3 separate regions of the Homo sapiens genome follow, and all the other regions are linked to region 1. The links come from fine-mapping of genetic effects on gene expression. A gene starts in region 1. Each other region holds a variant in brackets. All regions are shown on one strand. Distances are between the middles of the regions.

Region 1 (4,360 bases):
GCAAGCAAAGTTCAACTGTTTAACAATCACAATTTAATCAGCTCACAGGACTTATACACTGCATCTATCTAAGCAGTGTATGTATACGATAAATATGCACATTATGTATCAATAACAAAAACAGGATGGAAGACTTTTTATCTAAAAGCTTTGAATTCACATAAAATTAATCCCTATTAAGATATAAACAATTTATCAACATTTTAAAACATCTCATATCACTACAATCATAACCTTTCGGTTTGGAAATCTGAATCTTTCAGTGAAGGTATAGGCTCTGCTAATCGATCAACACCTATGAGAGGAGGAAGGAATATAAACGTTTCACTCTTTCTTTTGTGAGAATCTGTTCATCCTTCAGGGCTCAGCTCACATTATTCAACAAATATTTCTTAGTGCTTCTCAGATACCAGGTACTATTTAAGGTCCTAGTGCAATGTTGACCAAAAGGACTAAGCTGTTGCAAATGTTGAAATAGAAACAATTGCCACTGGCCAATATGGCAACTGGGTACTTGAAATGTGGTGGCTACTACCAAAAGAATCACTTAATTTTTAATTTGATTTAATTAATTCAAATCAAAATAGCCAAATGTGGCTAGTGGCTACCAGATTGGACAGGGCAGCCCAGTCCTAAGTATAGAGGTAAACAAGATAGACGAAAATGTTACCTTTGTGAAGTTTATAATCCAGTGTAATAGAAAGACATTAAACAAATAAACCAATACATACGTAATGTGAGGTGGTCATTGGAAGTGGTCCCTTTAGGAAGGGTGTTTAAGGAAGGCCTCTCTAAAGATATCTGGATTATGTACATGCCTGTCTATATACTCCTATGAACACTACACTAACATATAGCACAGAACTCTATACAAATGCTTGTCTTGTTCAGCTGTACTCTGGCACCTACCATAATGTGGTTCTTGACCAAGTGTGCAGAAGTAATCTGCAAAGCTCCCCAAACTGATCCGGTCATGCAGTGTTCAAAATACACCAGCAACTCAGAATTTGGAAAACGTGGGGAAAGAACACAGCAAAAACAAGCCGCTCTTTCCTCCCATCCAGTCTCAAGCAGCTTTTGAGCTTCACTTCAAAACACAGCAATGCGGAGCAAAGATTGCCTTCTCCTTTCTTTCTTCTCATCCCCAGCTTTTACTGTAAATGAAGTCGCTTAGTCTCTGCCGCACCACACTCTTCAGCTATTGCGATACTTTTAACAGGCTGCTTCACGCAACACCACACCTCTTTCGCCTACCATTAGATTTATAGTTCCCACAAAGTTTCTAAGACCTTAGAGGTTCTCTGCCGCTCCTACACATAAAACACCATACAGACACTCTATTAAGAGTTAATGACTTTAGAGAGGACAAGGATGCACAGAAGTATTCATCTAAAAATACGACGACAAACTTTGTCCTTTTCCTTTTACACTCGGAAGTAATGAGGCAAAGTGACAGGCTATGGGAGCGGGTAAAAAAGCAGCTCAGAGTTGCCAGAAGAAAAGGGAAGTGAAAAAGCCGGAAACTGGAGATGCCACAGCCCTCGACCTACAGCCTTCCAGACCTTCCCACCGTACGGCGGGAGAGTGGGGGTAACCTCAAGCCCACTTGAAACCAGTCAGTGCCAACTGGGCGGCCGCGCAGCCCCCTTCCGGCGCCCAGTTTGCGGTCCGACTCCGCCGCGCCTTTCCGCTGGAGCCCGGGCCTTGTGCCAGCCTGGCTGACTGTGCCACGAGTTACCTGCTTGTCTCGAGTGAAGAATAGCGCTCCGGCAAAACCTGGAGGCAGCGCTGGAAAAATCGCACGTGCCGATCCCGTAAGAAATCCAGCCGCTCTCCCTCACCGCTCCCTGCTAGCCTCTCATCCTCAGTGGCCGCCATGCTGCTCCGGAAGCGACGTCCGCCGCGACCCGGAATCAGTGCCCGCGGAGAGAAAGAACCCTCCTGTGCTGAACCACAGGGTGCCGGGTGAGGGGACCTGCGCCCGCCGCAGACTAAGCCAGTATTTGAAACCGCTATCATCTGGGTCCTGTGCAGCACTTCCTCTCTCCGATATCTCCCTAGCTAGCGCATGACCCTACCTTTTCTACTCAAAGCCCTCGAGGCTTGTAAACACCTCGCAGGCCTTGTGAAAATCAAGTCCACAAATCCCTCCGTCAGAATTTTTATCTTGGGAAGCGCAAGGTCAAAAGCATCAAGTACGCTTTGAGACAATTCTGGCTCTGTAGAACCTGAGGATGGTATATCTGAAAACGAGGATGGATCAGTATAAACTTGCTAACAGATTCATTTTTGGAGGGCCAGTTTTAAGCCGAACGGTTAGGGAAACAGAAAAACAAACCAGTGGAGATAAATGTTTATTGACACTACAAAAGCTCAGAGACTTTCCTAATCTTAATCCTTTCTGGATACCAGGAATCACTTAAAAATCTGTGTATAATGCCCCCAAACATATACAACATGCATATTCATACCTATATATGACTGCTTGCGTCATTCTTTTACAAATCTTACAGATTTTACTTTGCTTGAGTCGACGTGTTATCAAGAATCAATGGTGCATCAATCTGCAACAGCAAAATAAGCTCAATATCTTCTCCAATTACCTGCATTCTAAAAAATTTAAACATGCTTCTAGTTCTTTTTTCCAAAAATAGGGATTTAAGTTGTTTAGCCGGTATACTATGCCCTTTAAACTTTCATGAGGCATTCCTGAGTAGCGGGTGGGGGGATCCACCCAATAATATAACTAAACTAGGTTCCCTGTGATCAACTTAGCTAATAAAATTTTGGGTTTAATTTTGTTAGCTTTCTTAGAAAATGTAATTCTTATACTCTATGGGCTGGGGTAATCTTACACTTATTCAACAATCCAAAGTGCTCTGAATAATTTTTGGTACTATTAACTACTTATTCACAGGTATTCCTGCATGTCTTTACAAAATGCCGCATTTAACAGCCACAGACGGATTCTAGGCTGTCCTCGGTACTTCCCTACAAATACGGAGCTCACAGTCCTTGCCCTTCAGGTGTGCCCAGTCTGGAGTTTCCACTGTTATTAAAATTAAGATCTCTCACTTAGCACACATACCCCCAAATGCCTGAAGATTTTTAAAGTGGAGTCTTATACACATTTAACTTACTGGAATCAGCTATGGACACTCTATACATTCTCAGAAAATTAATTCTAATAAACATGGCCCTTAAGTTAGGGAAGCCAAATGTTTCATCTGATTCTCAGCTCAAGGACTAGCAATCTGATCCAAATCTAGAGGAAAAATTTGCAATGTGGGACTCATTCAGAGATAATACAGAATGCCTCCTAGGTCGGTAAAAGGCTTTCCATGAGTGATTTTATCCCTACAAGATTTTTGGCATGTGCATAACAGAATGGGAATGATAGAACATCTATATAATTGAGTGTTATTTAGCCATTACATGATAATGTTTGAATTAGGTAGAAATGTACGAAAATGTGTAATGCAATTATAGCATAGTAATTAATATGTACTGTATGACTGTAACAATTTAAAAATATGTAGGTATGTTTTTTGAAAAAGTTACCCTGGAATTATGGGTACTTTATAACATTTCTTCTTTAGTGTTTTTTCTATGTTTCTTATTAATGTAGTTTTTTTGTTTCCAGGCTTACTTCATTTTATTTTTCTTGTACAACCCGATGTTGTAGCCACCGCTGGAGCCTGGGTCCTCTGCACGGAGACTCTGGTGTGGGTCTTGAGGAGGTGGTCAGTGAATTCCTGATAGGGAGACTTGGTGAATACAGTCTCCTTCCAGAGGTCAGGGTTCAGCCTGCTGTAGACCTTAGAGATGGCATAAAAAATGACCATGACGAAGTTGCCCAGGATGGCAGTGCAGCCCCTGGCTGAGGTGTAGCAGTCATTGATAGCTGCCATCAGCAGCAGCTTCTTGGCCATGGGGGCCGAGACGATGCCAGTGCTCCTGGGCGCAGGGATGACCCGCGCCAGCACAGAGCCGTGGCAGCCTGTCACCTTGCAAGGGATGGTGTGGGGCTTGCCGATCTTGTTCCCCCAGTAGCCTCTGCGCATGGGCACAACGGAGAGCTTGGCCAGGATGATGGCCCCGCAGATGGCAGTGGCCACCTCCTTGGAGCACTTAACACCCAGATCAGTGTGGCCACTGTCCCTGATGGCAACAAACGCCTTGAACCTGGTGTTCTGGCCGGTGCAGGTCTGCTTCTGCACTGGCACGTCTTCAAAACCTCCTTCTTGAGAGAGGCCCCAGGAAAAAGTCAATGATCACAGACTCCTTGATGGGCAGAGAGAAGAGATAGATCTACTCCAGGGACTTAATCTTCATGTCCTTGACCAGGCAGCCCAGCTTG
Region 2 (4,000 bases), 23 kb after region 1:
TGAGATCACACCCACATATTCAAATAGGCTTGGTGGTGAACATCACTGGTTAGTAAGAAGAACAATGGCTTTCAGAGTGGCTGGAGCCAGCCTAAGAGTCCCTCAAACACCATTTATTAACCATGTAACCTATGGAAAGATGTTTATCCTCTATGATCCTCAACATCCTCATTTGTAAAACAGGAAGAAGAGCAATTTAAATATATGATGTTCGTCATTTATAAAACATTATAAAACACTTTCATATACACATAATAAAAAAACACAAAAACGATTCACTTCCTCAAAAACATTTACCAGGCATTTAGTTATAAAGTGAAAATAGATTAAGTCTGTTATTCGTTATATAAAATCTAAAGAAACAGCTATTTTTTTTCCCTTGAAATACACAGATTCAAAATTGTAAAAATAAAGAAAATTGAAATAACTCTATTTACAATTAACTTTATATTGAACAGCCTATTATTTCATACCTCCCATCTTTCTCTTGTTATATTTGACAGGCTAGTGATTACAATTTTATAACTTAATGTGAGCCTAGGTAGGGTAGAGTAGAATTAATTTTTTATTGTCCATTATAAAATGGCTAGTAATGTTATTTGAAGATTATATTCTTATACTTACTGATTTTTAAATTTTTCTGCTGTGCGTACAAATTCTGCTTTCTTAGTCTGATTAACTTTCTGCTTCCAGTTCTGAAGATGAAAAGGACGAATTCCACCTGAAGTACTAAAACAGCCATCACTCTGCATTGAGAACAAGAAAAACTTAACAGTAATGAAAATAGTAAGACATAAATGTGGAATTTTTTCAGAGAGATAAAATGTCAATAGTTGAGTTTCTTGAAGGATAATTTTGGGGCCAATCTCACTTAACTCTTAAAAGTACATTTGTGGAAGAAGGAGTATCTATCAAATGAAGGAATATCTATCTTAAAATGCTAAACTGAGTAAGAAATGTTAAATATCCAGGGATTATTTGCAAAATGATCTAATTCATTCAGTCGGTCATTTAACAAATATGTATTGAACACTATGAAGTGACACGGGCTACATTAGACACTAGGAAAACAATGATGATCTATAATAATATGGTCCCTGTCTGAAGGTCTAGTGAGGAAAAACAGATTTAAAGAGATAAGAGTAAACAAGCAATAAAATGAAAACTCCACCAGCTGCAATAAATGCTATTAAGAAAATAAATATTAGGGCTCAGATGGAGAAAGCGGAGAAAGGGTTTCAGTTACAGTGGTCACAGAAGGTCTATTTGAAGGGATGACTTTAAGGAAGATTGAAGCCAGCCATGACAGGAGCAGTAGGAAAGTGTGTTCTAAGCAAAGGGATCCACATGTGCAAAAGCCCTAGAGCATGAAAGACTTTGCTGAGTTCAAGCAGAGAAAGGCCAATTGTGTCATGAGATTAGTAACGGTGTGGATCTTGGTAGGAAAATGAAAGTAGAGAGGCAGGTATGTGCCAGATCATACAGATATTTTAGGTCACTTAGGGGGTCTGGATTTTATTGAAGAGTTTTGAGCAGGGAAATGCCATGATACATTTAACTCTTTAAGAACAATTTTCTGGCTATTTTTTTGGAGAGGAAATTGATGGGAGGTGTGGGGGTGGAGTGAGGCAAGACTGGAAGCAGGAGATCAATGAGGTACTTAGTACAGCTATAGAGACAAGGAATGACAGTGTCCAGGACTACTGGGCTGACAGAAAATAAAAGAAGACTCAATGTATTTTGGAGGTATCACCCAGAGGGATTGCTGAGCAATAAAAATGGGTTGTGGGGGATGAGGGGAAAAGGAAACAAGGCTTCAAATTTCCAGGAGCAAAAAAGAACAAAGTATTAAATCTAAATCTAGGAAATATATTTTAAGTCAAAATGTAATTCACAGACCATAAAATATGTCTGTTTGAAGTGTACAATTCAGTGGTTTTTAGTGTATTCACAAAGTTTTGTAACCATCATGACTACCCAGTTTCAGAATATTTTCATCATACCAAAAAGAAACCTCATACCTATTAGAGGTCACTCCCCATTCCCCTTCCTCCCAGCTCCTGGCAACCATTAATCTACTTTCTGACTCTATGGATTTGCATATTCTGGAGAATTTATATAAATGGGCTCATACAATGTGTAGCCTTGTCTGACTTCTTTCACTTCACATGATGTTTTCAAGATTCATCCGTGTT[G/A]TACCATGAATCAATACTCCATTCCTTCTTACAGCTGAATAATACTCCATTATATGGGTCTACCACATTTTCTTTATCTACTCATCAGTCATTAGCTGATGGACAATTGGGGTGTTTCCATTATTTGGCCAAATTAATCTGAACATTTGTGTACATGTTTTAATGTGAATGCATGTTTTCAATTCTCTTCATTATATACCTAGCAGCAGAATTTCTGGATCATAAAGTAACTATTTTTTTTTACTTTCCCATTTTGAAAAATTGGGTGGCATAGTGGGGCCTGGTGGCTCATGCCTCTAATTCTAGCACTTTGGGAGGCCAAGGTGGGAGAATAGCTTGAGCTCAGGAGTTTGAGACCAGCCTGGGAAACATAGCAAGATCCTGTCTGTATAAAAACTTAAAAAAAAATTAGCCAGGCATGGTGGTGTGAGGCCACCAGGAGGCCACCTCAGGAGGCTGAGGTGGGAGGATCACTTGAGTCCAGGAGATTAAGGCTGCAGTAAGCCATAACCACACAACTGCACTCCAGCCTTGGGGGACAGAGCAACACACTGTCTCAACAACAACAACAACAAAGGATTGCCCTTTTATTGTTGAGCTGGAAGCATTCTTTATATACTGGATGTAAAAGTCCCTTATTAGACATACGACTTGTAAATATATCCCCCCATTCTCTGAGTTGTCTTTTCACTTTCTTGATAATGCCTTCGAAGCCCCAAAATTTTAAACTTTTTAAAGAATTGCCAGACTGTTTTCCACAGTGGCAGCACCATTTTACATTCCCACCAGCAATGTATAGGGGTTTCAATTTCTCCACAGGCTCACCAATAACTGTTATCGTCTGTCTTTTTTATTACAGTCATCTTAATGGGTATGAAGTGATTTCTCACAGTGGTTCTGATTAGTCCATAATGACTAATGATGTTGAGCATTTTTTTCATGTGCTTGCTTATTGGCCACTTCTTTTAAGGAATGTCTACTTAAATCCTTTCCCTTTTTAAAAATTTGGCTGTCTATTTATTGTTGAATTGTAACAGTTATTTATGCTACTCAACTTTTATGGGAGGCTATTGTTTTGAACAGAGCTCCTGCAGTAGGCCCCAAAAGACCAGACAAAATAAAAATGGAGTTACTCATGCTAAGTGCCACATGATCAAAATGAAACTTTGAGGAAAGAGGTAGATTTCCCCAACTGACCAATTTTTCCTGAAAACAAGAGATGCACGGCAACCAATCAGAAAGGGTCCAGTCAACCTGAGCCCGAGTAATAAGAAAAGCCTCTCTGCTTTTACCTTCATAAGTTACCCGAAGTAAACAGATGTTAACCAATCCCCTTTCCTTTTTTTTTTTTTTTTTTTTTTTAATTAAAGTGGTGAGGGTCTTCTTATGTTGCCCAGGTTGGACTCCTGGGCTCAAATGATCCTCTCATCTCAGCCTCCTGAGTAGCTGAGACTACAGGCACATGCTACTGTGCTCAACTCCAATCTGCTTTTTTCTTTTATTTTTCTTTTTGCTTCAAAATATTATTTAATAATTGAGATTTTATTGGTTGTGTTGAAAATCAGTACACACACATTTCAATTTGCACACAATTTTTAACACAGGTACCAAAAATCTAAAATGCCTTTTTTTTTCCCCCCGAGACGGAGTTTTGCTCTTGTCATCCAGGCTGGAGTACATTGGTACCATATTGGCTCGCTGCAACCTCTGCCTCCCGAGTTCAAGCAATTCTCCTGCCTCAGCCTCCCGAGTAGCTGGGATTACAGGCACCCACCACCACGCCCAGCTAATTTTTGTATTTTTAG
Region 3 (4,360 bases), 46 kb before region 1:
GATATTATTTTGCTTGAGAAATTAACTTCTGAAGACACACTTTGGCTTACGACTTTGAAAGCAATGTACACTTTCTCTAAGAAGACATGTTTTACTACTGATTGATTGATTGAGACAGAGTCTCGCTCTGTCGCCCAGGCTGGAGTGCAATGGTGAGATCTTGGCTCACTGCAACCTCCACCTCCTGGGTTCAAGCAATTCTCCTGCCTCAGCCTCCTGAGTAGCTGGGACTACAGGTGTGCACCACCATGCCTGGCTATTTTTGTATTTTTGGTAGAGACGGGGTCTCGCCATATTGACCAGGCTGGTCTTCAACTCCTGACTTCAAGTGATTCACCAGCATCAGCCTCCCAAAGCTGGGATTACAGGCGTGAGCCACTGCACCCGGCCATTTATTTTATTTTATTTTTTGAGATGTACTCTTGCTCTGTTGCCCAGGCTGGAGTGCAGTGGTGTGACCTTGGCTCACTGCAACCTCTGCCTCCCAGGTTCAGGCAATTCTTCTGCCCCAGCCTCCCAAGTAGTTGGGATTACAGGCACCCACCACCACGCCTGGCTAATTATTGTATTTTTAGTAGAGGCAATGTTTCACCATGTGGCCAGGCTAGTCTCAAACTCCTTGCCTCAAGTGATCCGCCCACCTCAGCCTCCCAAACTGTTGGGATTACAGGCGTGAGCCAAAACTCCTGGCCTAGGAAGCATGTTTTATATGAAAATATAGGCAAGTAGGGGTGTAAGGAAATATTCCTGCTCATTTCAAATACAAAAATTGATTTCATGAGCTCCTTATTTATATTCTGATTCAATCACACATTCCAACCACAGCAGTTCTGTGATGGAAGATGAGTTGATGAGGCACTTTCCAGGCTGATAATAAAAACCACGACTCTATTGCAATACTGGCAAAAACAATCATTCCTTGTGTCTAGTTTCATATTTGTAACTAATTCTTTAACTACTTGCTTATCAAAAGTGTCAGTGTTTGAAATTATTTCAAAACACACTTAAATGGATTTTTATAGGGAAGCTGTATATAGACTCATTTTGCTGGAGGTGAAAACATATGTCGGGTGAGGTGTAGGCTGCAGAATGATGCTAGAGGTGGGAGAGGAGCCAAATTTTGGAAGGGCCTTGAGTGCCATGCCATTTATATTGTCTGAATCTGTTGAAATTTGGAGAACAAGAGTATGGGAAGTGAGAAACACATATATTCAGGATTTGAAATATTTTATTTAATGACTTTTTTTTTTGAGACAAAGAGTCTCGCTCTGTCACACAGGCTGGAGGGCAGTGGTGCAATCTCGGCTCACTGGAACCTCTGCTTCCTGGGTTTAAGTGACTCTCCTGCCTCAGACTCCCGCATAGCTGGGACTACAGGCACGCATCACCACACCTGGCTGATTTTTGTATTTTTAGTAGAGTCGGGGTTTCAACACGTTGGCCAGGCTGGTCTTGAACTCCTGACCTCAAGTGATCCACCTGCCTTGACCTCCCAAAGTGTTGGGGTTACAGGCATGAGCCACTGTGCCCGGCCTATTTAATGACTTCTGAAAAGAGTAAGAACTGATTCCCTTCAGGATTGGGAGTAATTTATTATACTTAGTTCAAGTCATGACTAATAATCCTAACGGCTTTGGATGGCCTAAATAATTCTCTTCTTTGGAAAGGACCCATTCAGACCATCTACATTATTGCTGCAAATGAAATAAAACATTACTAAGTAAAATATTTGGGAAAAAATGCACAC[T/C]ATTCCCATGCATCTTGATAATAAACTCTTTCATTTATACTCTCTAATACCCTAAATTTATCCTAAGCTTACACAATATACCTTTTAAAAAATATTATTTAATGTAACTTTGCAACTGGATATATTTTCTATCATATGCCTTTTCTGATAAAGATGCTTGAAGATCTATTCAGGAAATAAAGGTTGTTCTGATTCACAAAGAAAATAATTACCTGGATGACTGTCTGGCCACTTGGCAAATCCCCCTACAAGGCGATCTTGAGTTGATAAGATGTAATTTCTATTTTTCTCAAAGTTAGTGTATTGGAAAATTTTTAGAAGCTGAAATGACATGACAAATAAAAATTTACTGACATAAAACTCATATCAACCTTTGGCTCAAATTTCAGATACGTGTCATTTAGATATGCTTTTCTTTAGCTAAGGTGCTCAGACCAAGTCTCTGGGGCCTTGAGCACTTTTGAAATGAGTAAATCACATTAACTTTTTAATTTTCTTATCAAATCTACTCTCCTTTTCTCGACTCTCTATTTCCTTCTTCTGAACCAGGCCAACTGAACCCTTTAAATCACATTAAGCTAAATTCAAAAGACAACTCGAATCCACTCAACATAATCAGTCATTTTAAAAAGTACAATTTTATCTACCCATATTTTAACTCTTATGATAAGCTCTTGAGCTATTAGTTATAAACTAGTAGTAACTGGAATTAAAAATATTTTTTAAAAAAAGAGCAAACAAAAATTACTAACCAGATGCTACAGACAGTTTTGAAAATAGTAAAAAAGTATAGCTCTTTAATTAGGAAAGAAAAAGGTAAGACAAAAATGATTGCAACATAAAAAACTATATAGTTTTTAATGATTTAGGACATGTACTTGGCTTTTCTCTCAAGACCCCATAAAAGTAAAATACAAATAAATAAATAATACTGTGAAGTTCAAGATGAGGTGCACAGTAGGTAAGAGGGTTCAAGACATTTCTGATGATACAAAGCAATTTAATATATGTTAATGAACCAGAGAGAGCCACAGCTTTTAGTGACTAATGAAGAAGCATTATTTCTCAAAAAGAAAAGCTAAACTCATAAGAAAGTTATGGTACAAACAGGAAACAAATTTATTCATTTACATTGATTTAATTAATAAAATATAAGGAAAAAGACTTTTTTGAATCTTGATGTTAGGAATATTTTCCATCAGTGGCACACTGGTCATTACATAAAAATGAAAAAATTATAATAGTAACACTGCACTTGGCTTAGCAATAAACAATATTTTCACTATCCCATAATAAGTGTTGATTACTGGTTTTTAAATTTTAGAATCAACCTATAGGCAAAGGCTGAAAGATGTGATTATTAATATTGAACAAATATATGAATGTGTCCTAACTTAACATTATAAAAATAAAGGTAACCTTATATAGCATTGGAAGGTAGAAGATGAGGAAAATATTCAGAACTAACTATAACGGGTAACAATTTGTTGGAAAAGTGAGAGGCTAAATCTTAATTTCTCATAGTTGGGAATCATCAATAATGTCTAAAGGTGATAAGAAGTCAGTCTGTGATTTAAAGTTATGGTAATGTCCACAAGAATTAAAACATTTTTAAAAAGTTTAAAAGTGGTTGCCTTCAGAAAGCTGTCAAAGACTACTGACGTCAAATAAAAAAGACTTGGGACAACTTGAAAGGGTTCTTATAGACTAAAGATAGGACAATTTAAGCATTATATGTGTGTGTGTATATATATATATATATGTCATATATAACTAATATATATTATATATAATATATGACTAAAAAATGTTAAAATCTATGTGTTCACAATGATTCTCAAAAAAAAAAAAAAAAAACCCAAACTCTAAAATCTAATATTTTATTGGAAAGGCTGAGGGGATGGTAGGGAACCAACTCATTTTGTTGAACACTATTAAGGGAAAGAATTCAGTATTTATCTGTCCTTCTCTGTACAAAGTATATCTCAGGGTAAGGTAAAATTCTTCTTTAAAAAACAATGCTAGTTAATAAATTGAGAAGGAATGAAAGAATACCACTGTTTTGTAACCTCTTAATGCCATAATTGATTTAAGCAATGATCCTTAATGCCTGTTAAAACTATTCCATAAAAAGTTGGTAGTTACTATAGACTAGCAATGAACAATCCAAAAGGAAATTAAGAAAGCAATTTCATTTACAAGAGCATCTGAAATGATTAAATACTGAGAATTTAATCTTAACAAAAAGGTGAAAGATTTGTATGTTGAAAACTACAAAACATTGCTGAAAGAAATTGAAGACCACCTATATAAATGGAAAAGCATCCTGTGCTCATGGATAGGAACACTCAACAGTGTCAAGATATCACTACTACCCAAAGGGATCTACAGATTCAATGCAATTCCCATCAAAATTTCAAAAGACTTTTTTGCAGAAATGGGAAAGTCAATTACCAGATTCATATCAAATTGCAAGGGGCTCCAAATAGCCAAAACAATCTTGAAAAAGAAAAGTTGGAAGTCTCAAACTTCTTGACTTTGAAACTTACTACAAAGCTACAGTAATTAAAACAGTATAGTACTGGCACAAGGGCAGCCATATAAAACAACAGA

Evidence for each region. PIP is the estimated chance that this variant, and not a neighbour inherited with it, causes the effect.
Region 2: its variant is the best candidate, but not a certain one, in a credible set for the expression of PGGT1B in esophagus mucosa (GTEx, PIP 0.57).
Region 3: its variant is the best candidate, but not a certain one, in a credible set for the expression of PGGT1B in prostate (GTEx, PIP 0.83).

The regions. Positions count from the first base shown.
Region 1 is chr5:115,260,974-115,265,333 of GRCh38, forward strand. PGGT1B (protein geranylgeranyltransferase type I subunit beta) reads right to left here and starts at 1,904. Exons shown (of 9, transcript NM_005023.4): 1 at 1,739-1,904. The coding sequence starts at 1,878. It also overlaps the pseudogene RPS2P26. RefSeq lists enhancers at 1,763-1,942, 1,973-2,022.
Region 2 is chr5:115,284,163-115,288,162 of GRCh38, forward strand. It overlaps CCDC112 (coiled-coil domain containing 112), which reads right to left. Exons shown (of 10, transcript NM_001040440.3): 2 at 625-746. Among named protein-coding and RNA genes, the nearest start is that of CCDC112, 10 kb to the right of the region's middle. The variant G/A (reference allele first, on the strand shown) is at 2,196.
Region 3 is chr5:115,214,906-115,219,265 of GRCh38, forward strand. It overlaps PGGT1B (protein geranylgeranyltransferase type I subunit beta), which reads right to left. Exons shown (of 9, transcript NM_005023.4): 8 at 1,960-2,068. Among named protein-coding and RNA genes, the nearest start is that of PGGT1B, 46 kb to the right of the region's middle. The variant T/C (reference allele first, on the strand shown) is at 1,748.